Homo sapiens: one gene and its partners. The protein of the gene in region 4 purifies or fractionates together with the protein of the main gene of each other region. This does not show direct contact. Each region holds a gene or a part of one and is shown on either strand. Other genes may lie near its edges. The genes, in order: DHRS7, EIF4ENIF1, STEAP3, LCTL, SC5D, THEM6 and NETO2.

The links.
Region 1: the proteins of LCTL (region 4) and DHRS7 purify together in Homo sapiens (affinity purification with mass spectrometry; one large-scale study listed by BioGRID and IntAct). This does not show direct contact.
Region 2: the proteins of LCTL (region 4) and EIF4ENIF1 fractionate together in Homo sapiens (co-fractionation; one large-scale study listed by IntAct). This does not show direct contact.
Region 3: the proteins of LCTL (region 4) and STEAP3 purify together in Homo sapiens (affinity purification with mass spectrometry; one large-scale study listed by BioGRID and IntAct). This does not show direct contact.
Region 5: the proteins of LCTL (region 4) and SC5D purify together in Homo sapiens (affinity purification with mass spectrometry; one large-scale study listed by BioGRID and IntAct). This does not show direct contact.
Region 6: the proteins of LCTL (region 4) and THEM6 purify together in Homo sapiens (affinity purification with mass spectrometry; one large-scale study listed by BioGRID and IntAct). This does not show direct contact.
Region 7: the proteins of LCTL (region 4) and NETO2 purify together in Homo sapiens (affinity purification with mass spectrometry; one large-scale study listed by BioGRID and IntAct). This does not show direct contact.

What each region holds. Positions count from the first base shown.
Region 1 is NC_000014.9:60,148,079-60,152,457, forward strand, and holds part of DHRS7 (dehydrogenase/reductase SDR family member 7 isoform 1 precursor), read right to left. Parts: intron 2,110-4,379; coding exon 1,987-2,109; intron 1,491-1,986; coding exon 1,275-1,490; intron 144-1,274; exon of another isoform or gene 1-143. UniProt on the Homo sapiens protein: NADPH-dependent oxidoreductase which catalyzes the reduction of a variety of compounds bearing carbonyl groups including steroids, retinoids and xenobiotics.
Region 2 is NC_000022.11:31,441,309-31,445,175, forward strand, and holds part of EIF4ENIF1 (eukaryotic translation initiation factor 4E transporter), read right to left. Parts: intron 3,383-3,867; coding exon 3,298-3,382; intron 1,787-3,297; coding exon 1,654-1,786; intron 811-1,653; coding exon 466-810; intron 1-465. UniProt on the Homo sapiens protein: EIF4E-binding protein that regulates translation and stability of mRNAs in processing bodies (P-bodies). Plays a key role in P-bodies to coordinate the storage of translationally inactive mRNAs in the cytoplasm and prevent their degradation.
Region 3 is NC_000002.12:119,243,852-119,248,230, reverse strand, and holds part of STEAP3 (metalloreductase STEAP3), read right to left. Parts: intron 3,810-4,379; exon of another isoform or gene 2,743-3,809; coding exon 2,243-2,742; exon of another isoform or gene 1,350-2,242; intron 553-1,349; coding exon 25-552; intron 1-24.
Region 4 is NC_000015.10:66,559,499-66,562,998, forward strand, and holds part of LCTL (lactase-like protein isoform 1 precursor), read right to left. Parts: intron 1,818-3,500; coding exon 1,689-1,817; intron 1,604-1,688; coding exon 1,508-1,603; intron 1-1,507. UniProt on the Homo sapiens protein: Plays a role in formation of the lens suture in the eye, which is important for normal optical properties of the lens.
Region 5 is NC_000011.10:121,305,788-121,310,166, reverse strand, and holds part of SC5D (lathosterol oxidase), read right to left. Parts: intron 3,782-4,379; coding exon 3,681-3,781; intron 3,111-3,680; coding exon 2,655-3,110; 3' UTR 1-2,654. UniProt on the Homo sapiens protein: Catalyzes the penultimate step of the biosynthesis of cholesterol, the dehydrogenation of lathosterol into 7-dehydrocholesterol (7-DHC).
Region 6 is NC_000008.11:142,725,581-142,730,517, forward strand, and holds the start of THEM6 (protein THEM6), read left to right. Parts: upstream 1-1,642; 5' UTR 1,643-1,766; coding exon 1,767-2,279; intron 2,280-3,380; exon of another isoform or gene 3,381-3,910; intron 3,911-4,937.
Region 7 is NC_000016.10:47,140,840-47,145,941, forward strand, and holds the start of NETO2 (neuropilin and tolloid-like protein 2 isoform 1 precursor), read right to left. Parts: upstream 3,107-5,102; 5' UTR 2,774-3,106; coding exon 2,740-2,773; intron 1-2,739. UniProt on the Homo sapiens protein: Accessory subunit of neuronal kainate-sensitive glutamate receptors, GRIK2 and GRIK3.

The DNA of each region.
Region 1 (4,379 bases), on a different chromosome or scaffold from region 4:
ACACTCTGGACATTTTAGTGTGTCATGACCCAGTCTGATAACCTTTTATGTCTCTTAAGCATTTTGTTGTGTTTGTAACTTTTTACCCCCTAATTCATTTTCACTGTCCTGCAAAGAGTTGGAATAAATTAAATGTCTAACAATTAGTGGATTGCTTAAATTTTTGCAGGTATATATAGTATGATCTTGTTTTATAATTCTTTTTTTATCTGTCAATCCCCATTGATTAATTTCTAAAAGAAGGTGGTAACAAAGTATATCAAAGGCTAACAGTAAAAACCATCCTCAGCAATAATCTTTTGCTGCATAATCATCTATAATTTTTGGTTTACTTCATTACATTTCCTGTACTGTCTATAAATTAAATTCTTTTGAGGGTCACAATTTCTCAGAAATGGTTAATAGTATTCCCTGACTAATTGCTATAAAGAATGAGTGCTGAAAGAATGATAATCAGCATATTTCCTTAGACAGGGGAATAGGCACATCTTAGATGTGCTGAGTACTTCGGGAATGAGGTAAAACTGCATGCATCTGTTTTAACAACACAGTAAGTGCTTTGACAGGAAAGCATAGGGGCTGAGGTGCACTTGGTCCTGGGGAGAAGTGGGAGGGAAGGCCAGGTACCATTCCAAGGAGGTGACATGGGAGTTGAGACTGGTAGGATGGGTAGGAGTTGGTGGGGAGAAACAGTAGGGAAAGAGCATTTTGACACACACACTGGTCAAACAATATGTATAGAAGAAAAACATGGCAATCTTTGATTTGATTTTACCTTGTAAGAAACTTCTCTCTCCAAGACTAGTAATAATTTATAGTAAACCAAAATATATGCATGGGGATAAAATATTTTTTATTTATTTTTCTTTATATCATGAGATTGGTGGAGGGTTAGAAAGGTTTTTTGATTTTGAAATAGAGTCTCGCTCTATCACCCGGGCTGGAGTGCAGTGGCACCATCCTGGCTCACTGCAACCTCCGCCTCCTCGGTTCAAGCAATTCTCATGCCTCAGCCTCCCGAGTAGCTGGGATTACAGGCATGCACCACCATGCCCAGCTACTTTTTGTATTTTTAGTAGAGATGGGGTTTCACTATGTTGGCCAGGTTGGTCTTGAACTCCTGGCCTCAAGTGATCTGCCTTGGCCTCCCAAAGTGCTGGGATTACAGACATGAGCCACTGCACCCAGCCAGAAAGTTTTTTAAACACTGGAAAATTCTGTACCTTCCTGCAAGATTGGTACATACTATTAAGAAACTTAGAAATTGGTCTTACCACACCACTCTTAAAGTTCTCAATCCTTTTCTTCCCCATCTTGTTGGTTATCCACCAGGCCCAGGTTGGCATGTATTGCCACAAATATGTTACTAACAAGAAAGGTTGTTCTGAGATCCAAACTTCTTTCAAATCATTGGCCATGCTGATTAACATCAGCCGCACACAACGACTGGTTGTCATCTTGTGGGACTGGTCTCCATTATTGCCTATAGTCTAAGAAAAGTTAAAAATTAAGTGAATTTATCCAAGCGATTTCACATAACTTTAAGCTAGAAAGGACTCAAATGCCGTCTAGTTGAGTGGTTCCTTTAGTGGAGCTTCATGCCCCTTAGGAGTCTCCATAGGTACTAATGGGAGTTTATAAACTATTTGTAATATTTCAAAAAGCCTAACAGAAACCATATGCTTACTAGATAATATAGTGCAGGCTAACTAAAAGATGAAGATTCTTTGCTTTTAATTAGAATTGCATCACCCTAATGTGCTTAATGACAATTATCACTTTTGTAATAAAAATCAAACTATTAAGACAATGCATTTAGCAAATGAAATTCCATAAACAATTTTCATAATGGCAGGAGTTTTGTGAATAATTCACATAAAAGCACTTCTAAGGCAAAAACTATGATATACAGTGATACAACACCAATATATAATGCCAATATATAACTAGTAAACATTCAAATTATTCCCAACTAGAAATTTTTACCTTTGTGACTTCTCCAGCTAGGGAATTCTCCACAATATTTGATTGCACAGGTCCTGGGCAAATGTTAGAAACTATTATACCTGGGTATGTGGCAAGTTCTGTTCGAAGGCCATTAAAAAAACCCTAACAGACAAAAAAAAAAAAAAAGGAAAAAGGCAAATAAATACAGACACATATCTCATGATTTATCAAAATATGTTCTAAAATGTGTGAGTAAAGGACAGGTAGTGTAATCATGCAAGCTTATTAGGCACTTTTTTTTATTATTATATTTTAAGTTCTAGGGTACATGTGCACAACATGCAGGTTTGTTACATATGTATACATGTGCCACGTTGGTGTGCTGCACCCATTAACTGGTCATTTACATTAGGCATATCTCCTAATGCTATCCGTCCCCACTCCCCCCACCCCATGACAGGCCCCACTGTGTGATGTTCCCCTTCCTGTGTCCAAGTGTTCTCATTGTTCAATTCCCACCTATGAGTGAGAACATGCAGTGTTTGGTTTTTTGTCCTTGCAATAGTTTGCTGAGAATGATGGTTTCTAGGTTCATCCATGCCCCTACAAAGGACATGAACTCATCCTTTTTTATGGATGCATAGTATTCCATGGTGTATATGTGCCACATTTTCTTAATCCAGTCCATCATTGATGGACATTTGAGTTGGTTCCAAGTCTTTGCTATTGTGAATAGTGTATAAGGCACTTTTAACAGTAGACTGGAGGCAATCTAGAACAGACATTCTCAGCTCTTTCCAGGTATAAATGGTTCACCCCCTTTGATAGTGAGGGGTCTTCCCATCAATGATTTTTATGGTAGGCATGCACTGGATAGGTAAAAAGAACTATCCCTATAGATTCTGATATATGCTCTTCATACCAGTCCTCCTCTCCCCACTCCAAAAGGGGTATATGTCCTCCACTGAGAATCACTGAGGTCAGGTTTCTATTTATTCCCCAAAGTAGTCTAAAGTGCAAATTTTTGGGGCAAAGGTGAGGAAGATGGGATTAGTACTTCACAGAAAGTATCAGAAAGAATGAATTCAACTTTTTCCATTTATATTTCTATTTTAACAGTATTAATTCATTTTAGCAAACATTTATCTTTTTGGGTAATAAGAGGGTATGTGGCTAATTAAAAATGTAATATGATTGCCTACTGAATGACTTGTGTAAAACAGACTAGACCTTCTAGACTTAAAAAGATACTGACCATTTCTAAACCAATGGGGAGTAAACAGAAATCTACTGCCTCTCATCTCTTCCTAAATTAGGAAATGTTCCAAGACTACATTGTTATAAGGCTGGGTTATCTATTGAAAAGCCTAAACAGCTAACCCACAGTACATTGTATATGATCCAAAAATGTTAAACAGTTATCAGCTCTGAAATGCTGACCCCAACAAACAGAGGGGCTATGAGGGTTTATGATCAGAGACCAATACAGTGCCAGACTCAGAGATGAACCCAAAAAAAAAAAAAAAGCTTGCTAATTGAATGGAAAACTCCCATAACTTTAACCTTCTGCCTCTCTGTAGCAAAAGAGGAGAGAGGACACCAAGCAAGCCAATATATCAAACACTAAAACCTCTCCTTGTTTGAAATCACATCTAGTATTGTGTGTAAACTTTTCAATGATAAACAAGTTAATTCTGTAGTTTACTGAGAATCTGAGAAGGAAATGTGCTCTTCAAAAAGAGCTTCCTGGTAACTACAGTCTCAACCTGCCACATTTTATCATAGGATCAAATCCAGTAATAAAATAATGAGTCTTGGAGGGCAGGCCAGACAGCTCATCTGTGTTTACTGAAAGCATCCAGCATATCTTATGAGACACGTGGTGCCAAACAGATGGGTGGCCGCCCTCCCTCATCTGCCTGCCTGAGGCTTGCCCAACTGCTCCACAGGAAGTGACTGATGCCTGTTACTAAATATGAGGAAATCATCAGTATAGCATTCCGCTTCATCACTGTCTGCAATTGTCTGCACTTTGCAGCAGAAAAAAGATGTCCTAAAGAACCAAAGCTTCAAATTTTCATGAAACCATGATGACCATGTAGCTATTGCATCTCATGATTCCAACAGTGAAACATTCTACTTAAACTGACTTCAACAGCTTTAAATATAAATTTTGTGTCTTCCTTAATCATTCTTTTCCTATTGGCCTTATAATTTCTTTATATCCAGTCTTAAGCCACCATTAAAAATTCATCCATTTCTAATATTTATACATCGTAAGTTATGCAGTCCAAATCAAGCTTCTCTCCTTGCCTCTGCCTTGACTAGATTTTCTTCTTCCAATGAAACCAGAGAGAATACAGTCAAGATTTTTCCCAGTAAGGATATGAGACCAGGACTAATCATCCTGTGGGAAGTACCTATTTCTGACA
Region 2 (3,867 bases), on a different chromosome or scaffold from region 4:
GGGTGGACTGCCTAAACTTAGGAGTTTGAGACCAGCCTGGGCAACACGGTGAAATCCTGTCTCTACTAAAATACAAAATAAATTATCCGGGTGTGGCGGCGTGCACCTGTAGTCCCAGCTACTCGGGAGGCTGAGGCAGGAGAATTGCTTGAACTCAGGAGGCAGAGGTTGCAGTGAGCTGAGATTGCGCCACTGCACTCCAGCCAGGCAGACAGAGTGAGACTTCTGTCTCTACAAAAAGGAAAAAAAAAAAAAAAAAAAAAAAGAATCTTCAAGCTAGGTTCCTAATCTTTTAAAGGACTAGGGGATTGACTGGATTGGGCCCACTGCCTGCCAGTTAGATGGGAGAATCTAGTAACATCTTTCTAGGGATGGAAATCTCCCACATTATAGCACTTCATCAGTGCCAACAATTGTCCCCTAGGCCCACAAACTGACGACACCCAAGTCAGGCTGGAAACTCACCAGTTTGGAGCAAACTTGGAAGATGCTGTGGATGTACTCCCTGGGCCAGCATCCTCTGTACCAACCCTGGGTGAAGCTGGTGAGCAGGCCTAACCATAGGGACATGGGGGACAAGGGGAACTTGGTGGACAGGGCGGAGAAAAGGTGTTGTAGGAACTGGGGATGCCAAGGTGGGTGTTTTTCTCCCAGTTGCTTTAGGTCGATAATCTTGTTCTTTGGTGTAACGGTTGGCCTGGGACAGTGGGGTGGAACACGAAGACCTCTGTAATGCTGACAGTTTGGAATTTGTAGTGGGAGAAGAGTCTCGATCGGCACTGGGTACAGAGCTGGATGACAGGAGGTTTTCTGTGAGGAACCAAACAAAAAATATTTTGGCAAACCTCTCCCAAACACTTGTGGCCTCCCACTGGTCTAATAAATCTCATTTCTTAAGGTCACAATTCTTATCTGATACCCTTAACAAGTTTAGAGGACTACACGGTAGGAACCATCGTTTGCTTCATAAACAGGACCAGAAGATGAATTGTTGGGCACCCTTCTCTGCACAAATGGCTGTGGCCTAGATTATGCAAATCTATCACAACAGAAAATCTAAATGGCAATTAGAGTCTGGTCAAAGAACCCAAACTGTCTTAATAGTACCAACAGGATTTCCTCCCCACCACCCACCCCAAGCCTTCTCAAACACAGGCAAAAATCTCTCAGATCTGTACTTTTAACACCTCTGTAAACCCTAATTTGGAATCCGCATGTTACCACGTCCTTCACAATCCCTACTGTGCAACTCCTAAAAGCCTCTCACATATTTTCTATGTTGGACACTTAAGTCTCCACAGGCTGGACATAATCTTTCAGAAGTAAAACTCGCTGAATTATATTAATTTGCCAAATAAGTATACTAATTATTAACTTTGAAGCCTAACTAAGGATTCTAAACTAACACTCATTCTACCCGTCTGGTAGTAGCACTCTTAGATTGGTCAAATTTCAAGCAACCAAGCAATTGTGAGCTGGCCCAATTCTTCTCACTGTCACACAGAACCTTCTCACTGACACAGAACCATAGTCCAGAGAAGCTAGTGGTCTTGCCCAGGGCTTTGTATAGAATATCAGGCTGGTCAGCGCTCAGGCCCATGTTTTCTCCATCACATACTTTCTTGAGCAGTGCCCTTAACAGCTCTGCAGTACCTTCACTGGCCTTCTGAGTATCCTCTTTACTGTCACCAAGAGCTGCTTTTCCAGATGCTGGCTCCTCCTTGCTTTTCTCTTTGCTCTCGTACATCTTACGAATCACTGAGGTAGGGGTAAAGGAAGGAGAAAGCTGCAGAGAAAAACAATTGGCATTAGCACATTCTCTAAGTGCCGTTCTCTAATACTAAGCCAGGATTAACTTGTCAAGATACTCAACAAAGAGTCCCCACATTGGTAGCATAGGCCAACTGTAGTATTCTGTTCTGTAGCTGCTGGAGGAAAAACAGAATGGGGCAAATAGGCAGTGTCCCAAGTACATTATCCCTTGCTTACAACTGTGTGATAATGGGGACATGCCTATGCAGCCTCTGCGTCACAGATTTCCCAGCCTGGGATTAGGCTGGCAAGAGAAAGAACATGGCCAGAAATATAACTTGGAGCAACAGACCTTCCTTGACATTTCAAAGATAACATCAAAACCAGAATTACTCCATACTCCTAATATTTCCCTTAACTTGGCTACCAGAAAAGTCAAATTTATCTCAATAGTCTCCTCAGCCATCAGGATTAATCATTTGGAGTCATTTCTTACCTCTTCACTATTTCTACCTTGGTGATTTTATTATGCATTTGCCTTTTCTCACCAAACAACCCCACATCTTTGATGGCAGGAGACAGGGCTTGACTTATAAACAAAAAAGTTCTTTCCAAACCCTGCTGCCTTCAAGGTCACCGGTGCAAAGACCCACGTGGGGTTCTGAAGCACGCAGCAAAGTTATTTTTTTTTTTCCTTCTTCTCTATCGGCTTTGATTAGATGATAAAGATTTGTGGGGAATGAACCTTTTTTTTTTTTTTTTTTGAGACGGGGACTCACTAGGGAGGGCAGTGGCACGATCTTGGCTCACTGCAACCTCTGCCTCCTGGACTCAAGTGATCCTCCCACCTCGGCCTCCCGAGTATAGCTGGGACCACAGATGTGCACCACCATGCCCGACTAATTTTTTGTATTAGGGGTAGAGACAGGGTCTCACTAGGTTGCCCAGTCTGGTCTTGAACTCCTGAACTCAAACAATCTACCTACCTCGGCCTCTGAAAGTCCTGGGATTACAGGCGTGAGCCACCACGCCCAGCTGGAATGAAACATTTTTTAAAGTAATGATAGTTATAAAACTAGACTTCTCACTGCATATAAGCAAACCCTTCTGTTCCAGCCTTAGTTTATATCACTGAGACCTGAAGTGGTGAATCCGAATTTGTGAACTCCCCTGCAAGTTTCAATAGACTCCCCACTGTCTGACCCAGTCACCTCTGTCCACTTCACCTCCTGTCTCTCACTATCGTCCTCCTGTCTCCCCACACCTGGTTCATTTCTTTGAACATACTATATCACCTCGTGTGCCCTGGCCCATGATCATCTCTGCTGGAACATATTTTCCCCAATATAGGGGCTTCATTAAAATCCTAAGACTTAGACTGTGTCCTAAAAGGGAAAGACCTAATAGACAGTTATGAAAAACTACTAGGTCAGTTATTTCCGTGGAAGGAACTCAAGGACATTTAGGGCACACAGTGGTACAATCCATGCACAACCAAACAGGGAGAAGCCTTAAAGTCCTTCACAGTTACTAAAGGTCACTGACCATGCTTGTGATGGAGGCAGCAGGGGCAGGGGAAGAGGAATTCCCTCGATGCACGGGTGCTGGTGACTTGGTCACTCGCTGTTGCCTGTGAACAAACCAATTATCAGCATGAACCCCAATCTGCTTAACTTCAAGTCTTAAAACCATATAATACTCAAGACCAGCCTAGAAGTTTTAACATCCCCTTTCCCTTATCCAATTCAATTTCCCAAGCATTTAGGCCTAACATACACAAAAGCACATGCTAAGCTCTGAGGGAAGACAAAAGGAAAATGAAACACAGTCCCAGTCTTGTAAGAGCTCTCAGTCTAGCGGGGGAGACAATCACCTAGAGCAAACCAAGGCATGTAGATATTAGGCACCAACAAAGTACAATGGGAAAATGGAGGGGTTAGAAGAAATAACAAGGCACTGCAGGGATGCTTCCTGGGGAAGAAGCTGCATTCCATTGGGTGCGATCAAGAAGAAGCTAGAGAACAACAGTTCAGGTAGACAGAATAGGTACAGGAACTTGGGAGTTGTAGGGTTATCCAGAGCTGGTGTATAGTTTACTGCAGACTACACCAGTGA
Region 3 (4,379 bases), on a different chromosome or scaffold from region 4:
GGAGGAAGGGCATGGGGTGGGTACCTGCTTGACTGCCAGGTTGACCAGGTCGTAGCGGTGGGCGCGGCGCAGCGGCAAGCAGAAGCTGTAGAGGGCGTGCAGGGCGGCGCAGAAGAAGCTGAGCAGCCCGATCTGCTTGCGGTGCTGTAGCCAGTGGTCCAGCCAGTCGGGGAAGCGCTGGTACTTGGTGCCGCGCCGCAGCTGCAGGGCAGCCGCCAGCACGCCGGGCAAGTACACGAGTGACAGCAGCACGTAGGCCACGCACGGCAGTGTGGTGTTGACCACGGACACGGGCAGCTTGAAGAACTTGTTCTGGCTTTCCTGCACATAGGGCTGCAGAACGTCCCGGACGAAGTTGTAGGCATAGAAGCAGACGAAGAGCCCCAGGGCCAGCAGGGTGGGCACCTTCCAGGCCGGGAGGAGGCGCAGGGGCATGGCCTCCACCTCCCAGGCTGACGCCAGGGATCCCATGTCCACGGGCATGAAGCCCATGGCGAGCGCCATCTCCGAGACAGCACGCTTGGCTTCTGGCTGGTCACCGCAGATGGGCACCTGCGGGAGAAAAGTGGGGCAGTCAGACGGCGTCACAGGCCACAGGAGTGGGCAGGGCCTCACTGAGCAGCTGAGGAAACCGAGGGCCAGAGGGGCAGGGACTTGTTCAAGTGAGCTGCCAGTCAATGGTACAGGTGGGAGCCAATGGGGTTCTAGCTCCCAGGCTAGGGGTCTTTTCTCTGCTGCCCAGGCCTCCCAGCCTCTGGCCCACCTGCCAAGCCAGGCCAACTACTCAAGGAGGGAAGCTGCAAACAGTAAGCATCTTGCCCAGCTCGTGGACATCAGCAACCACAAGCAAAATGCTCATCCAGGTAGTCCCCATGGGCCCCCGACATGGCTGTCTCCAAGGCCGTGGCCTGCCCTGGGAGCCGCTCAGCAAAAGAGTTTTGCGTATGGTGCAGAATGGGCAGCTGTGGCTGCAGCTCCATCCCTCAGTTCAGAATCACCCCCCTTGATGATGTCCCTCGGCTCAGTAGAGCCCTCAGCCAGCACATAAGGCCTTCTACAAGCCAGCTCCAGCCTGCCCTCTCCGCCTTGAAGCCCGCTGCTCTGACCCACGAGGTCCCCCTGCAGGCACATTGCAGTCCTCAGATCCCCAAGCACCCCGTGGGCCTTGTTGACACTGCATTGGTCAGTTTAGTCTCCAAACACAGACTGAACACCTACTCTATGCTGAGCTTTACATATATGATCTCTCAGCCTTGCCATGAGCCCGCAGGTAGGTACTATAGTCTTCATTTTTCAGGTGAGAAAACTGAGGTCTAGGAGCATTGTTTCTTATCTCTGTGCCTTTTCAGATTGTTCCCTCAGACTGGAATGCACTCCCTGCTCCCTGAGCCTGACAGCATGAGGTGGGCCCAGGTCAAAGCCCTCCTCCAAGTCTTTTCCAGCCAGCTTGCTTGCTCCGTTCCCTCCAGGCCCTGCATCCAACACTCTCCACTGTTCCTCCTGGTCCATACCTGGGAGTCCCATGATGCAGCCTGCATTTAAGGTGCTGTAGTCAGGTATGGCTGGGCACCTTTAAACTGTCCTACAGAGCCTGGCACCTGGGCTCGACTCACTGGTGGAAGTTCTCACACATGGAGTCTGGCATTCTTTCGCCAAGAAAATGCATTAAAAACCAAGGTGGCATTAAAAACCACCTTGTCTTGGTAAGAGCTCCTCGTGGCAAGAAACGTATGCAGCTCTAGCTGTTCCGTGGAGCCATTATCTAGCCCCAGAAAAACCTGCTGTTGACTTTTCTGAGAAATCAGTTCTTGGAAGCCCTTAGAATAAATACGATAAAATTTGAGACATGCCTGCCTTCCTCAGGGCCGGGTACATAAGTGTGTTACTTTCCTCCTTCTGAGTCCAATTCTAAAAGCCAAGTCTCTCTCCTTCTTGGCTCCAAATAGCAAAAAGCCATCAACCTTTTCCTCCTTGCCCTCTAGGAAACCCTGTTACCATAGCAGAAAGAACATGGGTTTCAGATCCATAGGAACTGGGTTCAAATCCCAACTTACCAGCTATGGAATTTTCAGTAAGATCATTAATGTCTTTGAGCCACAATTTCCTGTTCTGTAAAATGGAATTTTGCAGTGATGCAGGATTAGTTATGATAACATATCAAAAAGAGCATGCTGGCAGCACTCGATGAAAATTAGCCATTTATATTTATTGTTACGATGGGTATTATTCCCCCAGAACCTACCTGCCTGTTACCATCCCTTGGGCCAGCCTGCAGGGTCCAGGCAGAGATGACATTGAAGGCCTTGACCACTGTGCAAGTGGGGAAGAGGGAGGCCAGGTACTCAGCATTGGACTCACGATGCTGAAGGTGCTCTTGCTCTGTAGGGTTGCTCACATCCACCAGGATCTTGCCCGCCAGCTGGTCACTGAGACTGCACAGTGAAGAGTAGTGCTCCCGGAACACAGCCACAAAGATGACCTCCGGGGAGCTCACTGCCTCCTCTTGGAAAGTCACTTGGGCCGCTGAGGGAAACAGCCTGGCTGTGCGTTTGGGGTTGCGGCTCCCCACCACCACTTTGAAGCCAGAGCCCACCAGGCGTGTGGCCAGGGAGCGGGCAAAGTCCCCGCTACCCAGGATGCCCACTTTGGGGGCCTCATCGGGGACCTTGGCAAGGCTACTATCGCTGTCCACCAGGTGGAGGCTGATCAGTGGCTTGTCCATCTCTTCTGGCATTTTGGTGGCTGCAAGAGAAGTCAGGAACCTGGTCAGTGGAGGGCTCCTGGACTGCCCCTTCTGCCACCTCCCTCCTCTTATACATCGTAACTACACGGCAGTCAGACATTCACCCAGCAGGTGTTCACCGAGTGCTACCACGTGTCAGCACCAGGGGAACAAGCTGAACACAACACAGCCCCTTCCCTGGGGAGAGCACAGACTCAGGAAGAGCAGGGATGACTTCTGCCCTCCACCCTTTGTCCCTCCTGCTGAATGATTTCCTCGGGAAAAACTGGCAGAGTGAGAGTGCTGGGAAAGGGAACTCTGGAATTTCCATGACCAATGTGATGCAGTGCCATACTTCTTTTCAAAAGGATTAGGCAATGGACAGTGTCACTAGCCAGGAGTGACCATCTAACCCCAACCTCACCATCGCTGGGTGTTTGATGACCAGGAAGGGTGAGCATGTCCCTATGCTTGTCTACATTTTGCATCTTGGAGCAGTTCTTCTTATGCTCTCCCTGAAGCATGGTGAACAGCTTGAGGGCAGGACCTCATCTCATCTGACCTTGGACCTCACTGTGTATCATAGCCTGGCACGGAGGCAGTGCTCAGTGTTTGCTGAATGAATGAATGAATGAACACCAAACCTTGATCTCTGAGGGCAGGACTGAGAGACAAGTGAATGGGCCCCTAAGATAGAGTGGGTGCCCTGTGATCTTCTTTGCTGAGCCCAAGATATGAGTGGATGTGGAGGAAACCCTGAACTCGGGCCATCGGTCTACAGTAAACTTGGATGGAAAAATTATTATATATTAATTGTCACCAACTTCTAACTAAAATTTGCTATTTCCTTTAAGTATGAAGGTAGGCAACATAATTTTTCATTAATACTGACCAAGATCATATCATAAATTTACCTGTAAATAATTTATCCTAATACCATTTAAATTGAGCACAAATTTAAAACCATGCTAGCCAGGTGCAGTGGCTCACACCTGTAATCTTAGCACTTCAGGAGGTCAAGGCAGGAGAATCGCTTGAGGTCAGGAGTTCAAGACCAGCCTGGGCCACACAGGGAGGTCCCATCTCTAAAAAAATAAAAAAAAAATTAGCCAGGCACAGTGGCACACGCCTGTCGTCCCAGCTACTCAGGACATTGAGGCAGGAGGATCGCTTGAGCCCAGGAGTTGAAGACTGAAGTGATCGCACCACTGAACTCCAGTTTGGGTGACAGAGCAAGACTATCTCAAAATAATAATAATAATAATAATAATAATAATAATAATAATAATAAAAGTAAAAATAAAATTATGGTAGACATTAGATCTGCCACTAGAGCTTGTCATTTAATGTGCTAATAAAGAAGCATGCCTAATGCTACTGTAGTCTTTTTTAAAAAATATTTTCGCTGTGTTTCCATATAATATATTTCATTTGTAACCCTAAGCTATTTTGTCTGGTGCATGTAAGAACATTATTCTGAGCAGAAGTCCACAAGCTTCACCAGCCTACAGTTCCACAGGGCTTAAGATCCCCTGCCCTGAAGCAGCAGAGCAGCTGGGGTGGCTTTCAACACCCTCCATGGGCGTCTGCCTCTTCCTACTTTTCCACAACACTCTCCTGGAACCTCTGGACACCTGACCAGGTGAGGGAGTGGATC
Region 4 (3,500 bases):
AGTTGGAGACCAGCCTGGCCAACATGGTGAAACCCTGTCTCTACTAAAAATTCAAAAAAATTAGCCGGGTGTGGTGGCGTATGCCTGTAATCCCAGCTACTCAGGAAGCTGAGGCAGGAGAATCATTTGAACCCAGGAGGCAGAGGTTGCAGTGAGCCGAGATCGTGCCACTGCACTCCAGCCTGGGCGACAGAGCGAGAATCTGTCTCTAAATAAATAAATAATCGCGTCTCTTCAGCTCACTACTTTTGATGGATAAGAAGGCCCAGAAAATGACTTCCATGTTTAATATTAAAAATATCTTGAGGCGGGGCGCTATGGCGCATGCCTACAATCTCAGCACTTTGGGATGCCGAGGTAAGGGAATCACCTGAAGTCAGGAGTTCAGGACCAGCCTGGCCAACATGGTGAAACCCTGTCTCTATCAAAAATGCAAAAATTAGCTGGGTGTGGTGGTGCACGCCTGTAGTCCCAGCTACTTGGGAGAATGAGGCAGGAGAATGGCTTGAACCCGGGAGGCGGAGGTTGCAGTGAGCCGAGATCACGCCGCTTCACTGCATCCTGGGTGACAGAGCAAGACTCAGTCTCAAAAAAAAAAAATCTTGAGAGCTCTGCCCTTTAAATATTCACAGTTTAAGAAATCATAAGCCAAATGTAGAAAAAATGAGAAAATGTTCTCCCTGATATGAGTTTGGGGATCTGGAATGTCACCCAGTGGTTCCTTGCCTTCCAGCTTAGACAGATTGTCCACCTTCCGCTAAGTGTCCTTTGGGGCCAATCCCGCATGCCTCGTATCCCTGTTCTCCAGTTACCATCATGTATACCCTCATACATGTCCTGTAATGTGACCCAATTCCTTCCCCAGCGACAAGGCTTTCCAGTAGCCCTTCCTTCCTGCAGCATCTTCTCCGAATGGCCCCTTTACTCTCTTGTGTGACTGATGCCTGCTGGCCCTAAGAGCACCTCCGCTGCAGCTCCTTCAAGCAGAGGCCATTTGTTCCATCACACTCCACATACCTCTGAGCTGGGAGTAAGGTGGAGTCTGCCTGCTCATTATCGCTGCTTCCAAACTAGTTTTCCTTCCTCCTTCAAAATTCCCAGGTTCTTTGAAGTCCACACTCTGATGACCACTTCTAACTCCTCTTACTGCTGTCCTTGATCAACCCCAGTTACTTCTACTGATTCATTGAAGATTTTAACCCCTGGCTCGCTGTCACACCCCTTCTTCCTCCTGTCACAGCTTGGACCTGTAGTTGACGCATTTCCACATGGATGTCCCCTTGGCTAGGCTGTAAGCTCTTGGGAGTCGCTATAACAGCTCAGCCATAGTGTCCCCCAGCGCCCTGAATGACAGAACACGCCCTCCATAAATCGTCACAGAAGGGAAGGTGCTATGGAGTATGCTGACTCGGAGGTGGAGCGGCAGAGGACCAAGCTCAGGCTAGAGCCCCTGGGGCAGGCTGAGCTGACCCTGAGGCTGTTCCTCCACCAGAAGGACCCACCTCACCTTAATGATGTGGTGTGCTGCCTTGTACAGGCCGGTGCCGCGGAGCTTCAGGCCCGGCGCATGGTGGCCCGTCTCATAGCCTTTTTCTGCCATTGCCTATAGGGACAGCAAGCAGGACCACAGGATCCATAAGAAGTGGCAGGGAGTGTCACATTCTCCCACCTGGAGGGGCCCTGCTTACCCGAGGATCACTGAACGTGATCCAGTGCTTCACACGGTCCCCAAAGGCCTCAAAGCACAGGTTGGCGTAGTCTCTGAAGTAGTTGGCCATGCTCACATTCTGCCACCCACCGTATTTGACCTGGAGCAGCTGTGAACACAGAGAAGCAGATGCCCCATGAATGAACCGCAAAGCGGTTTAAATGTGGAGATAAGCTGTGTGACAGTCCTCAGACAAACAGGAGGGAGGCCGCACAGGGAGACTGGGACTCTCATGCCTAGAAAGAACTGGATGGATTGAATATTTAAGAAAAATTGCCAGGGGAAAGGGGCCTAATAATGGGGAAGCATCTTAGATCTAAGTTCTGGAGAAATGAGATCTGATGCTAGGATGAACACTCTGATGAGGATTTTGAGGGCCACACAGATGTCAGAAAGCTCCTAGAAGCCTTGGGACAGAGTCTGCCTTCTTCGGCAGAGGGCTTTCCCAACCAAAGACATCTGCCCATGACGGCAGAATTCTCCCAAGACTTGTCACTGTATCGAGACTACCTGTCCAGCTCTCCTTGGTGGGTTTGAGGGGATGTTAATGGGGCAGGCTCATGAAAGCAACCAGGGAAGAAGCTGGAAGGTTCATCTCCCTAAAGCCTGCTCTGCCCTCCTGCCCAGTTAGAGGACTCTGGTAGCTCCCATTCCCACAGAATAAACCCAGTTCCCAGTCATCTTAGCTCAGCACTCGAGGCCTTCGAGGTCTTCCCCAAGCCACTTCTCCAGCCTCTAACCCTTCCCTCTCCTACCTGCTCCCCAAATTCTAACTGAACCGAACTGCTTGCCCAGCTTCCCCCTCTTTGCCATGCGCCCTCCAATCAGAACACCCTTTCCTCCCACCTCCTGCCCAAACCTTCCAGGGCACCGATGGGACCACCTTCTCCCCAGTGAATGAAAATATTGCCTGAGGCCAGGCGCAGTGGCTCACGCCTGTAATCCTAGCACTTTGGGAGGCCGAGGCAGCTGGATCACCTGAAGACAGGAGTTCGAGACCAGCCTGGCCAACATGGCGAAACCCTGTCTTTACTAAAAATACAAAAATTAGCCGGGCGTGGTGGCACATGCCTGTAATCCCAGCTACTCAGGAGGCTGAGACAGGAGAATCACTCGAACCCAGGAGGCGGAGGCTGTAGTGAGCCGAGATCATGCCACTGCACTCCAGCCTGGACGACGAAGCAGGACTCCATCTCAAAAAAAAAAAAAAACAAAAGAAAGAAAATATTGCTTGAATCACAGTGACATAGTGACGTTCTGAAGCATGTTGTGATTTCATGGACATTGCTGGGGCAGGGGTCATATATGAGTGCTTGTGATACTGGCTCAAACAAATTGTAGAAAAAAGGCTAAACTTGTTCATTATGCTATGTCGCCAGATCTTTTTTTTTTTTTTAGACGGAATTTCATTCTCATTGCCCAGGCTGGAGTGCAATGGCATAATCTCGGCTCACTGCAATCTTTGCTTCCCGGGTTCAAGCGATTGTCCTGCCTAGCCTCCCAAGTAGCTGGGATTATAGGCGCCTGCCACCACGTCTGGCTAAGTTTTGTATTTTTCGTAGAGACTGTGTTTCACCAGGTTGGCCAGGCTGGTCTCGAAGTCCTGACTTCAGGTGATCCACCCACCTCGGCCCCCCAAAGTGCTAGGATTACAGGCGTGAGCCACTGTGCCTGGCTGCCAGATCTTAGTTAAAAGACATATCTTTATAGTTTTTAAAATTTGTTTTTATGCCAAGTTTTTTAGAAAACAAAAGGATTCACTCTTTTCACTTACTACACACATCAATTAAAG
Region 5 (4,379 bases), on a different chromosome or scaffold from region 4:
TTTCCATCTTTCTCCCAGACCTCCTCTCTACATAAATAACCTGCATGCACTGTAAAATCCATGTATCAAAAAACTGAACTTGTGTAATTCTCTTCCAAATCTGTCCCCAGCTTCTAGAAGATGGGAGGAAAACATGATACAAGGGTATAAGGAAATTCACTCAGTACTGCAGAGACAGCATGGAAGACAAAGACTCAGTCTCTGTGTTTCTGAAAGGTCTTCTCGAACCATATCCACCCACTTCTCAATTTCTACCACAAAAGTAGAAAACGTAACCTTGATTTTCACTTTCTGTCCTGTAACTATAAAAGTCATCTGTAGAAGGTAATTTGGGTCCTCACTTCCATAAATATTCTCTGACTTCCTCTAATAGAAAGTAGGAGAATGTGGCAGTACTGTATATTACAATGTTAGGACTACTTAACATAACGCTGCTTTAAAAGACCAGAATTTGAGACGGGTGAAAGGGCAGGGGCAAGTTTGATTATTCCTAACATCTATGAGGAAGCCTCTGTCTTCCCCATAGGAAGCTGTCCTTTCTTCTCTATTAGTTATATAGGAATAAGAATCTAGAGGAAGCTTTAAACATTCATATTGGAGTTAAGAATTAAAGACACTGAGATGATTAGTGTGTGGATAACCTGAAATACTTTATGGCTCATTCACCATTTCAACATCAACAAGAGGAGAACACCACAAATACGGCAAACTGTCTAGCTGCTCAAGAAAATGGTGCCCCCTTCCTCCCAGGCACACAGCTGGACACATTTCCCAAAATCTCTCTAGGTGGGCCATGTGACGGAGTTCTGTCCAAAGGAACATGGGCGGAAGAGATATGCACCACTTCCAGGCCTGACCCAGAAACATTTTCCACACAGACTTTTCCTTCTTTTCCTATGTGCTCTTTCAACAAAGAGGGCTCTATGGACTGAGAGAAAGGCAGAGCCCCAAGAGGAAGGAGCCTGGGTCGCAGAAAGACTAGGTGGAAAGCTGTCCACTGACCACAAACATCCACATGGGACATCATATGAGAGAGAAATAAACCTGGGAATAGTTACTTAACTTCTTTGGGTCCTAGTCTCTGGGCAAAGAGGAAAAGCTCAATAAATATCAGCTGACATTATATTAGGAAATAAAGTTTACTTCTCCTTAATTTCTTTTTCTTAGGCAAGGCGGAGCACCGGGGGTGAGTGGGATTGGTGAAAAGCACTAAATGACATTTGCCTATTACAAAATGCTAATTGGTACATTTAAATAAGATGACATTGTGACAATAACTCACAGATTAAAGACATTTTCTTCTGGATCCCAGACATTAGATTTTAAGACTGATTTCTTGCTAAAAACACTCAAATCTAGTTAAAATGTGAAATATAAACAGAATGTGGTACCCACTTCTTTCCCCCTGTGACACTGAGTGTCCGGGGATGTTCTAAAACACAATTAACAATCCACATCATTTCTGTGGCTTCAAATTGGCACAAAATCTGTACAAAGAATACTTTGTGCTGCTATAATACTCAACTGATACAGTTTAATTATGATCAACTTTTATTGATTTTACATAAATAGCTTATAGAATGCCTTTACAAACTATGTTTTTGCAATATATTTGTTACAACACACATTTCCTTATGAATGTATTTGTTAAATCTTTTTGCAGAGGAAGTAGGGAAAAGTGAGGGGAGAAGAGGAGGAATAAGATTTTAGAACTAATCGTCAGCAATGGGCCTAGGTATTTGGCAATTATTTCCTTTACAAAAAAATTACAGGTTTGTAACTTCAAACATCAAAAGTGTAGTGCATCAATTTAACTAAAAAATCAGTAGTGCCTAATATATTATCTGGGCATCAAATTTCTTTTTTTAAATATATCCAGATTCACATATTTTTACTCTTATTAAATAATGGTTTTAAATAATAATCATCACAATGTTTAGCTACATAATCCCAGATCTGGATTAAATCATGGTGATATCGATATTTTTAAATTCCAATTTATTTGTTAATCAGTAAAATGTAATAGGTGATAGTGTGTCCAGAGAATGAGCCTCCTATGTGTAGGAAGACGATAGTCTTATTACACCTGCTATCAATTAGGTCATTTACATAGCTGCTAATGTATCAGAATTTTTTTCCACACTGATGTAGTACTTTATTCAAGTCAAAACAAGTTATCATTATCATACCAACGTTGAAGAATTAACCATTCCTGAAACAAGAAACAATCTTTACATTAGTATTTCTTGGTTATGGTGCTTAGTCTTGGTATTATTAAGCACAATGATTCTTAATAAACATGGGTGGATGAAGGCAAATGCATATAGCCTAGTCCCCTCAATAATTTATTCTCCATCTTATTTAAAATTGTTGTTGAGGCTATACAAACTACAGATCTGCTGCTAGAAAGATACAAGTTGTCCCCCGAACAACATCTGGCATTTTAAGCATAAGATTAAAGTCCTGGTGTTCACAGCATCTTCTTCTGACCTACCACTAGGATCATTCCTCAGCAGTGCCCACGATGCTGATTTCCAAATGATACCATTTACTATGTATCTTGACTGTATGGATATTATTTTTTCCTTATTAAAAAAAAGAAATACGATGATATTTCCTTCTTTGTCCTTACTTAAGAATAACTGGGCAATAATCTATTCAGTCTTTGTAAACTCTCCATTGAATAATTTTTCATTCTTACAGCCATTTCCTGAATGGCTGCTGCGCTTTCCCTCTGTCATCTCCTTCACATAACTGAGCGGTCCCTTCCCCTCAAAGGATGAAGGATTTTTGAATGAGCCGCCAATCCTATCCCACAAAGTGAAATATTGTCCATAATTATAGTCAAAGAACATATGGTGGTCTGTATGATGAGCTGAGCCATTAATAAATGGCTGTAAGATTTGGGGGACACGAAAATCACCGTCATGAATGGAAATTGTCCAGATATTAACCAAGATGTACAGACTTAAATAAACCACCTTGTGTAATGGAAAGATAAAAGGGTATATATGGTAAGGTAGACTCTGAAGAAAGCCATCAATAGGGTGAAAAGCATGACTTGCAAATGGAGTAGGAATCTTCCAAATATGGTGAGGTTTATGTAGGCGCTGCAGGAGAAAAGGACACAATTAGCACTGCAAACTTTACCCCGTGCAACATTCAACTTAGCTTCTCACACTCATGTTGGAAACAACCTAACAAATCCTGTAGAGATCAGCAAAATTATTTATTCTATAAAATGTCCTTCTTCGCCCTAAAACAGTATAATTTTATATGGATTTATGAGTACAAGTGCAGTGGTGTTCCATGGATATACTGCACAGTGGTGAAGTCTGGCTTTTAGTGTACCTAGCACCTGAAGAGTGCACATTGTACCCAATAGGGAGCGTCTCATCCCTCACTCCTCTCCCATCCTCCCACCTTCTGGAGTCTCTAATGTCTATTGTTCCCTCTGTAAGTCCATGTGTACCTGTTACCGGAACAGACGAATTTTAAGACAGCCCCTTAGACCCATAAAGAAGAATATGAACAAAATGCACCCTGTACCTGTTATGATTATGGCTACTTAGACATTTAATATGGGTAGAGGAAATTCTTGGAAATAGAGAACAGAATTTATAATCATACATTGCTGAAATGTGTAACCTTTTTTCTCTTTTCACCACAAATGACTTTACCTTATATACCAGTCTATGATGAAGGCCTCTGTGAATCCAGTAGATGAACATGTCAGTGAAAAAGAGGAAAGATATTATACTAACGACAAGTTCAAACAATCCTAGAAAAGAAAACGGGAAACAGAAGAATCAAAACTCAGCTCCTGGGATTAGAGTTCACTTTTCACATGTCCATCTGAGTGCAAAATGGGATCCTAGACTCAAACATTATAAATGATCTGTTCTGGCTAATTCAGTATATTATAAACTAATCTCTCTTGGCTTCTTGGAATCTGGTCATTTCCTCATTTCCCTCGCATAAGTACTTGAAATGTTCTACCTAAAGTACTTCTTAATTAAACTATAAAGATATTTGTGAGACAGGATACTCCTAAGACATCTTTATTATTTAAATCTCTGGGAATCATCACTTCCTTCATATTAATCTTCCTAAAACCCATCTTTACACATTATCTCCCTGCTTAAAATATACTTTCCACTAAATACTTTAAATTTAGCATTTATTCCATACTCCACCCCTTTCGGATCTTTCCAACCTCATCACTCCTGTATTTCTACTCTAACCAGGCAGGTTTACTCAATGTCCTCCCACTGTCTTGGAAGTTTTACCTCTGTATCTTTCATCATAGGGGTTCAAGAACCTAAAATGTCCTCTCTCCCTTTATTTTAACTCATAATCATATCCATTTTTCAAAGCCC
Region 6 (4,937 bases), on a different chromosome or scaffold from region 4:
TGCATTCTTTGAGCAATGGCCAACAGGCTCAACGGCTATGTCCTCAGTCCCTTCAGCCCAAAAGGCCACCCCTCCCTGGGGCAGAGGGCTCAGAGCCCAGCTACGACAAGGTGACACTTCAGGGACAAGTGTGAGCAATGCTAGGGTGTTGGGAATAGGCCCCCAAAATCTGGCCATAAACAAAATCTCTGCAGCACTGTAACATGTTCATGATGGCCATGATGCCCACGCTGGGAGGTTGTGGGTTTACCGGAATAAGGGCAAGGAACACCTGGCCCACCCAGGGCAGAAAACCGCTTAAAGGCGTTCTTAAACCACAAACAATAGCATGAGCCATCTGTGACTTAAGGACATGCCCCTGCTGCAGATAACTAGCCAAACCCACCCCTTTATTTTGGCCCATCCCTTTGTTTCCCTAAGGGGTACTTTTAATCTATAATCTGTAGAAACTGTGCTTATCACTGGCTTGCTGTGAATAAACACGTGGGTAAATCTCTGTTGGAGGCTCTCAGCTCTGAAGGCTGTGAGACGCCTGATTTCCCACTCCACACCTCTATATTTCTGTGTGTATCTTTAATTCCTCTAGCACCGCTGGGTTAGGGTCTCCAGGACCGAGCTGGTCTCGGCACTGGGGGAGCTGCCCTGATAGGTAGTGAGCTCCCTGTCCCTGGGGCTATCAAGCAGAGCCAGGTGCCGCCCCAGGGAGCTCCTTCTTTGAGGGCGGTCCAGAACCCTGGAACCCCAGCCCAGGCCCAGGCCTGAATCCGGAGCTTGTTTAACCCAGCAATTCCGGGACCCCATCCCCGGTCGCTGGCATCCGCTGTCATTCGAGAGCCTGGGGCTGACGGGGAGAGCTGGTCCGGCCTTCTCTGGGCCGCCTTTCCTCCCCAGCCTCGTCAGGAAGGGGCACAGGACAGCCGAGCTGTGCGACAGCCCGCTGGGCCTGCGCCCCAGGGCCTCCGGCGACACTTGGAGTCCGCAGCTGAGTCACTGACTCTCACCCGGGCTCCCCCGCTTCCGCCCGGCCGTGATTTGCTCCGGTTTCAAAAGGGAGGAAGGGCGGGAATGCTCGGGAAGAGCCTGGGGTTGGCAGGACCTTTAGGGGGTGGAATGAATGTCGTGAGGGCGAGTAAGGAGGTACCGGCTGGGGCTGAAAATGCGCACGGGGACCATGAGCGTGATTCGCCCTGAGCCGCTGCGAACGCCCTGCGAGCTGGGGTGGCCCTGGAGGTCCTGGAGCAGAAGCTAGGTTCCCGCAGAGTCCGCTGCAGCGCCGCTGGCGATCGGGCTGGGTCCCATTTTCCACGAAAAGTCCCGCGGCTTCGGCCGCGGAGGTGCTGGAGCCTTTGCGCTCAGACGAAGGGCCGAACGGCCAGGGCCAGGCCGCGTCTTCAGAGCCTGGCGAGGGTCTCGCGCTGCTGGGAAGGCGGAGACGCCGGGGCGCGCGTGCACCCTCGCGCCTGCAGCGCCGCGCACGGCCGCCAGGTGCCGCTGTGGCGCTCAGCGCGCCGCCCGCCCCGCCCCAGGGAACGCGAAAGTGGCGCGGGCCTGGACGGCGGGACGGACCACGTAGGGCGCTGAGAAGGTCGCGCCACGGTGGGCGGGGCTCCGGGCCCCTCCCCCTCGGCCGCCCTCGCGCTGTGGTTCGCTCCGGGCGCGCTGCGCTCGTGAGTTCCCAGGAGGCCTGGCGGGCACCGTAACCAGCGCCGCGGACACCGGCACCGGCGCCACGGACTCCGCAGGACCCCGCGCCCGCCGCCGCCGCTATGCTGGGGCTGCTGGTGGCGTTGCTGGCCCTGGGGCTCGCTGTCTTTGCGCTGCTGGACGTCTGGTACCTGGTGCGCCTTCCGTGCGCCGTGCTGCGCGCGCGCCTGCTGCAGCCGCGCGTCCGTGACCTGCTAGCTGAGCAGCGCTTCCCGGGCCGCGTGCTGCCCTCGGACTTGGACCTGCTGCTGCACATGAACAACGCGCGCTACCTGCGCGAGGCCGACTTTGCGCGCGTCGCGCACCTGACCCGCTGCGGGGTGCTCGGGGCGCTGAGGGAGTTGCGGGCGCACACGGTGCTGGCGGCCTCGTGCGCGCGCCACCGCCGCTCGCTGCGCCTGCTGGAGCCCTTCGAGGTGCGCACCCGCCTGCTGGGCTGGGACGACCGCGCGTTCTACCTGGAGGCGCGCTTTGTCAGCCTGCGGGACGGCTTCGTGTGCGCGCTGCTGCGCTTCCGGCAGCACCTGCTGGGCACCTCACCCGAGCGCGTCGTGCAGCACCTGTGCCAGCGCAGGGTGAGCGGCCCCCGCCCCTGGCCCCGGAGCACGGCCTTTGTGGGACCTCCGGGGGCTCCTCCTAGTCCCTGGCCCCCTCCCCTAGGGAAGGCCCGCTGCCTGCACCTCTTTCGGATACTGCTGGAGTCCTGCCTCTTACCGCTCCCGCCCCTCCCTCTCTACCGGGGGCATTCCTCACTGATGCCTTTGTTCGTGGGGGTTCCTAGGGTCCCCGAATCAACTCTTCATAGTCGGGCTTAGCGTGCTTCCCTCCTGCCATTTCTTAACCTGGCCCCTCACGGTTTCGTGTTCACCCCTCTCCTCTCTCCTGGTACTCTGTTCTGTGGCTGGAGTGTTGACCTCTCTGGTCCTTGGTCCTGAATATAGGTTGGAGAGGTGATCAGTTAGAAGAGGTTCCTAGGAGTTCCCGAGGACCTGAGCCCCCCTTTCACACAGCTTAGAGCTGAAGGGCTGGGTTCTGGTCACCTGGGTTTGGGGTTGAGGTATTGAGCCGAGTAGCTGAAAGCCTTCTGGCCTTTCTGCAGTTGGAGAGAGGAGGGCCATGCACCTCCCAGGGCTCGCTCCTCCCAGCAGGGCAGAACCGCCCCTGCAGCATGGCACCTGGGGCCCTGGGGACGGCCACCAGGCCGATGTGGCCAGACCAGTTGCCAGAAAAGTTGCCTGGAGCGTCCGTGCAGGAAGCCAGGGCCTGTGCACCCCTGGTGTGCCCTTAGGGCACTGCCCTCTCCGGTCTCGGACAGGTGCCTCCCGAGCAGACGAGGGTCAACGTCTCATCTCAGTCCTGATGTTACAGGAAAGGGATTCAGATCCAGACCTCAAGGGAGGGTTCTTGGATCTTGTGTAAGAAAGAACTCAGGGCGAGTCTGCAGCGCACAGTGAAAGCAAGTTTATTAAGGTAAAGCGGTGAAAGAATAGCTGGTCCGTAGACCCAGTAGCATGTTCCTGTAAGAGGAGGAACGCGTCCACCCTAGGTGCAATGCTTGTATATATGGGGAGATGTGATCTGCTACAAGGGTTTGTGATAAAGGAGTAATTTTCTTAATTACTATATTTTGCAAGAATCAATATTACTATTTTCTTTTTTTTTTTTTTTTTTTTCAGACGGATTCTCACTCTGTCGCCCAGGCTGGAGTGCAGTGGCGTGATCTCGGCTCACTGCAACCTCCGCCTTCCGGGTTCACGCCATTCTCCTGCTTCAGCCTCCCCACTAGCTGGGACTACGGCGCCAGCCACCACGCCCGGCTAATTTTTTGTATTTTTAGTAGAGACGGGGTTTCAAAATCAGGAATGCCTTTGTTCTCCAGACATCGGGATATCTGGACACTCCCAAGTCTGGGTCTCTTTAGTAAACATTATTAATTTGTTCCCTTAACTGTGTTTGAAACGCTTGTTCCCCGGTGCCGTAAAGAAATAGCACGTGAACATAAATTTAATTTCCTCAGCAAGGCCATTTTTACTTCCTGCAGAAAGGGTACACTCGCCAGCAGCTTTGCCATGAGAGTACACCGAACAAAGGAGACAGGCTCATTTATAACCTGATGTGTAACAATCGCTTTTATTTAAAGTGCGAACGGAATATTTAATCCATTTCAGCCAGGGATTTGCATCTTGATACTCTCTCGATGGCTAAGGTCTGTTTTAGATCTCTTATTTTTACAATAGACACCCTAGTTTTATTATTAGATGTAGAAGCAACCGGTGTGAGATCTAGAACTGAGGCTACTGAAGAAGGGGGAGATGGGGGAATAATGCGTATTTAAAAAATACCTAGGGGGTCTTTTCCATTTATGTCAATCCCCATACCACAGAAGCGACTGAGGGCAGGTCTAGAGTTAGTTAAGGTGGAGGTGGTGATAGAGAAGGACAGGGTTACACTGATAAGGCTGACAGTTCGAAAGGGTAGTCCTTTCAGTGAAATAGATGAGGGGTTTTAGATCTGCACAGACCTTTTTCTTGGAAGTTTAACTTTGCTCCTGAGCAGTTGAATGTGTATAGTCCCGTTTACTACAAAGTTGGCAGGCTATAGGAGCAGAACATTGGCATCTTGGCTGCAGGTCATTACGATAATGAGAGCTAGGGGTAACCATGTCCATCAGAGGGCTGGGACGTAAGCATTTGTGTGAAAAGGCTAGCTGTTGTTGATCTTTTACATTTCCGCAAGGTATGACAGAACAAGCATTCAAGGCGGTGGTCTGAGGTGAGTTAGTTACAGTAATAACAAAGGCGCTAGTAACAATAAGGAAAGGAAGCAATATGAAGGTACAGGAAAATTAAGCTTTCTTTAACTTTAACTTAGTAGGATTGGTCCTAGTACAGTCATCCATGATTCTGAGAGAAAGATGTTTTCTTGACTGGAGTGTGGTCGTTTTTTTCTTGGCTCTGCGGATGGCAGTCTCAGTGGTTAACAGCATAAAATAGGGTTCTTCCCAGGCTGGCTCAAGTTTTTTCTTTCTGTCTTTTGATGAGGACGTGGTTTTCAGGCTGGTGCTGGTGTACTGGAAATTCTAGGGGTGGTACCTAGAACTAAAAGTCTTTTAGTTCTGAGGGAAGGGAAACTGGAAGATAAATTAAGTATATCATTTTTGCTGCATATCCTGGGGCTTGAGGCCCCATGGTGATGCCTCCCGCTCCATTCCTGCTCAGCGCCGCCCAGGGGAC
Region 7 (5,102 bases), on a different chromosome or scaffold from region 4:
TGTTACATTACAAATTTAACCAGTTTCTACAGCTTGAAATATTGCTGAGTCGAACAGATTCTCCTGAAGCAAGTGTGCAGAATAAGAACAAAAAATGGATTTATAATCCTCATGTAATATTTTCATGAGACTATAATGCTTAGTTAACCTTGACAGAAGATTAACTCGAATTCTGTGAGGCCTAGAGTGATCACAGCTAAAAGTGAATTTTTTAGTTTCAACAACATAGGAAAGGTTTAAAAGCCTAGTAAGGTTATTCTTTTGTCTTAATGGCTGAAAGTAAAACAAGAATAATCAGTGGCATCTTAAAGAACTAAAATTACTTTCTACTTAAAATCTCACACACTCATTATGGCTGATTTATTTTAGTAGAAACTGACCATAATATTTCAAACAAGGCTTCTGTGGGTAATATCCACAATTATGTAAATGTTAAATAGCTGCTTCAGATAAGAACCTCTTTGATGTTAAAGCAATTCACTTTATAGGATAAAAGGAAAACTTCTTCATGCCTTGGGGCACACAATGAGTAGTTTGTAATGGGAAAGGCCAGTATCTTTTTAAAGGCAACTTTTTAAAATTAAAATATTGATTTTTAAATAAATTATACATGCGTTTGGTAAAAAAAAAAAACAAAAACAAAATCAAGTGATACAAATGGGTGTGCAGTGAAACCAGTCTTCCCTTCATTCCTGTCTTTTAATCCCCTAGATTTCCGTATTAGAATCAACTACTGTTAACAATTTATTGAATCTTTCCAGACCAGTTATTGGCATTTACAAGTTGATACCACAGACGACTTTAAAAATAACTTGCTTTCTCTCTAGGAAGCCGCCACCAATAGCAGCAACAACAATAATAATTCAGCTTGAGCTTTAAAAATACTCCAGCATGTAAAAATAGTGTAGGCTAACACTGAAAAAAGAAAAGCCAGACACTATATTGTTTTCACCGTAGCTCTGCCATCACCAGAATCCTTTCCTGAAAGGTACAACACTCAACGCTTCACCACGATGGCCAGAGAGGGCAGTGTGCACCCACGGGAAAGGCAAAGGCAGAAACGCTGCAAATCCCTTCACCATTGGAGGAGGCGCTACCAGCCCCTACCCTATCCAGCTCGATTTTATCAAGTTCTGCAGGTAAAGCGGTGTGACAGATCTACGCGATTTCATCCGGGGGTGCTCTCGGATGCACGGTCAGTAGCATGCTGACAACCTTACCGTAGTGAGGGCGCAATCCGACAACGGCAGAAAATTCAGATAAGCAACACGATCAGAAATCCTAGTGTGCATACGGTTTATCACGAAAGAGTAAAAACATTCCTTTCCCAGGAATGACTGTAAAAATTAGGAGTTAGAGATATGAAAGCCACAGGATGAATTTCAGAGTTGTTTTCAATTGTAATAAAGAAATCACTACGGATTTACGGTTTGTGAAATATTCATCAGCTAGAAAGTCCTAGGTTACCTTAGTACAAGCTGTAGATACGTTTACAGTGGGGTAGTTAAACGTTTCGAATTACTGAAATCTCAATTACGAATTTAGGAATATGTGGAGAGTAGACAATGTGTCCAATTAAAATCAAAAGCAAAATTACACTGAACTTTCTAATAAAACAAATTTGAAAAAAGTGCTGTTAGGGAGCAGGAAAAAAGTCACTCTACAAATATTAAGATACAGTGCTGAGTTATACATAACACCGTTAATAATGCCTCAGCCGTACCCTCGAAATTTTTAAAAAAAGAACATGTTACGACATTACAAACACGTCAGCTTTCAATTTAAATCAGCAGGGGGAAAAAGGGAAGTCCTTTACTGAGTGGTGGTGCTGTTTTCCCTCTGGAAATTGAAAAGACGATTTATTCAGTCCGAGTTTCAGGAGCAACTTTGTATCCCAATCCTAATTATCTATGTATATAAATTTTCATCTAAATTACCACCTCCTGGGAAATGCAAAGCCGGTGGAGTAGGTTTTAGAGCTCTGTGCTCTGGACAAGCCAACTGTTTTAATTCCCAGTACAACAAATTAGTAAGAACCGAACACCAGCGGCGGGGAATTCTGAGACCTCTGGCGGAGCGCGAGGAGCGCCGCGTCCCGGGAAGCACCCGAGCAGCAGCGCTCCCCGGGGGCCGGGACAAGCCGGGTCCGCGGCGCCCGCGCGCCGCCCCCGGAGCCCGCAGTGGTGCCGCAGCCTCCGTGGCCGCAGCAGGTGGGACCCGGCTGGCCCAGCAGGCCCCGTTCCCCGCCGCGAGGTGCAGGCGCCGCGGGGCTATTCGAAAACCACTGCACGACGTCACGGCCGCGGCTTTTATTGTTCTCGTGGAATTACTTTTTGCCATCACATCTGGAGAAAGAGCGGCCTCCGCTCCACGACAGGAATCTCACAACTTTGCAAAGGGATGCGCGGAATTCTACGGAAGCGGCGCGAGGGCGCAGCCCGGAGGGCCCTGCTGGGCCCAGGGGCCTCCTGGCCGCCTTCCCGACCCGATCCCTCTTCCCACACGCGCCCCGCGAACGTCGGCCGGACTCGCAGGGGTCGGAAGCGGCGCGCCCGGAGAGCCGGCGGAGCCGGGCAGGGCTCGCGCCCCGCGGTCCGCTCCGAGTAGCCGCGAGCCCCGCCAGACAAAGAGGCGCGTCGGGTCCCGGGCGCGGGTAAGGGACGCAGAGGCGCGGGCAGGGCGGCGCGCCAGCCTCGGCCCGCAGGGGGCGCCGTCCGTGGCCCCAGCCCCGGTCCTTACCTTTGAGGACCGAGCAGAGCCGCTCCAGGGCCATGTTCCCGAGCTGCCCGGCGCTTCGCGAAGGGCTGAGGTAGCGGCGGCGGTGGCTCGGCGCTCACGGCTCGGCGCGGCGGCGACGGCCCCACTCCGTCCCCATCGCCGGCCAGCAGCTGCCTCCCCGCTCCCCTGAGGAGAGCTCAGGTCCTGCGGCCCGCCATGCCCGAGCCCCACAGTGGGCTCCCGCGCGGCCCGAGCACCCCGACGGGCGCCGCCTCCTGCTCCGCGGCGCCCCGTCCCATCGACCGCCCGAGGGCCGAGGAGTGCGGACGCGCGGCGCGGGACCGGCAGGCAGCTCCGCCCGCGGCCCCGGCGCGGGATCCACTGAAGTGGCGGGCGCGGGGCGCCCAGGCTCATTTAAGGAGGGAGCGCGAGCGCCGCGTGCCGGCTGCGCCGCCTGTGCGCATGTGCCCGCCCCGCCCCGCCCCGCGCCGCGCCTCGCGCGCCCGCCGCGGCCTCGCGCCGTGGGACGGCGTCGCTCCCCGCCGGCTGCCGTTAGGGCTGGGAGCCGGCTGGGCGCGGGGGTAGTGAGGGTGCCTCTCGCCGTGGCTGCGCGGCGGCCTCGTCCGAGAGGCCGGCGCCGGGGCAGTGACCGGCCCGTGCCCAGCCGCCGCGCAGGGCGCCCGGGGCAGCTGGCCGAGCCCTCGATGCCTCCCGTCTGACGGAGGCGCCCGGGAAGCGCCGCCCACCTCGGCCCCGCACCCTCGCCGGCCTGCCGGGTCTCCGCCAGCCCTAGCAGACAGAGAGGGGCGCCGGTCCCTAGTCCCCCAGACCTCCATTCAAGGTCAAAACTTTGCCCAGCTCAGCCTTGCTCGACCCTGGGCAGGGAAGCGCGGACATCGGCAGAGGGAGCCCGAGGCTCTCCGTGCCCTTCGCGCCGGTGAGTTCCCGACCCGCGGCGCTGCCGGCGTTTCCCTAGCGCCCGCCAGGTTGACAGGCACTTTAGTACCAACTCCTCAGACTCCCCCTCATGAAGTAGGTTTTAGGGGATTGGAAAGTCGAGGCCAGAGAGGTGAAGCCCTTCGTCCAGAGCCGCGTAGCGAATGAGCGGCAGGGCTGTGCACCTCCCCCGGGGCTGCCCTCCTAGCAGCTAACCACTACGCTGGGCAGCTTCGCCAGCTGATGGGAGTCTCCAGGTCTGCCAACAACTGCCTGGCTGTTGGTGGTATTCATGATCCTGCTTTATTTTCTCCACAGCGGTTATCACACTGATATGACCTTCCTCATTTATTTATTTGTTCATCCTTTATATCTCCCTCACCCTCACACCATTAAAATATCAGCTGCTTGCAGGCAGGCCGACTGCATTCATTTTTTTCACTCCACACATACGTATTGGGTGTTAATTATGTGCAGAAGACAATGATTGGTGCTGGAGATAACAACCGTGATCAAGGCCTTACCATAATAGAATATTTATGCCTGTCTCTGCGTGTAGTAGGAACTCTGTAAACGTTTGTCTAACCAATTGTAGCTAAAGACAATGTCAGGCAACTGAAACATTTTTCAGGTGTTAAGCTCTTCTCTCTCACTTTGTATTCCTTCAAGAAAGGTACAAAAGCATAAATAATTCATGAGATTTACAAAGGAAAAACATACTTAACACCAATTAATATCGAGGTGTTTCACCCTTTGCCATGTGCTGTGAATGGGGGCATAAAAGATGGGTAAGTTTGGGTTCCTAAAGGTAACCACCTACTACAGTTAAGATCGCACACGAGAACCAATTAGGAAATAAAACATTTAAGAACTTTTTCCCACGGATATGAAAAGGTGGCTCACGCATGTAATCCCAGAACTTTGGGAGGCTGAGGCAGGCGGGTCACCCGAGGTCAGAGGTTTAAGACCAGCCTGGCCGACATGGTGAAACCCCATCTCTACTAAAAATACAAAAATTAGCTGGGCGTGGTGGCACGCGCCTGTAGTCCCAGCTACTAGGGAGGCTGAGGCAGGAGAATCGCTTGAACTGCACTCCAGCTTGGGCAACAGCGAGACTCCGTCTCAAATAATAATAATGATGTAGCATATTAGTAGAATAGGAGAGTAAGAAGACAATATTAAGTATAGGTTACAGACAACAGTGAACCAAAAAAATTTGAGAGGAAGGGGCTCTCAAATTAACATAATAGTTTCTTAATGTGAAGTTGTTGACTGAAGGAAAAATCTGCGTGTCATGTCATCAGAGAAGACTTCCTGAAGGAGGTGACACACAAACCATGGAAATGCTTGGGGTGGCGAGAGGAGAGGAGGCAGAAGAAGAGCTCAGCAGGCAGGGAGCAGGATGAGCCTGGAACGTGGGGCAAGTGTTGTGTTTGGTATAAAGAGGT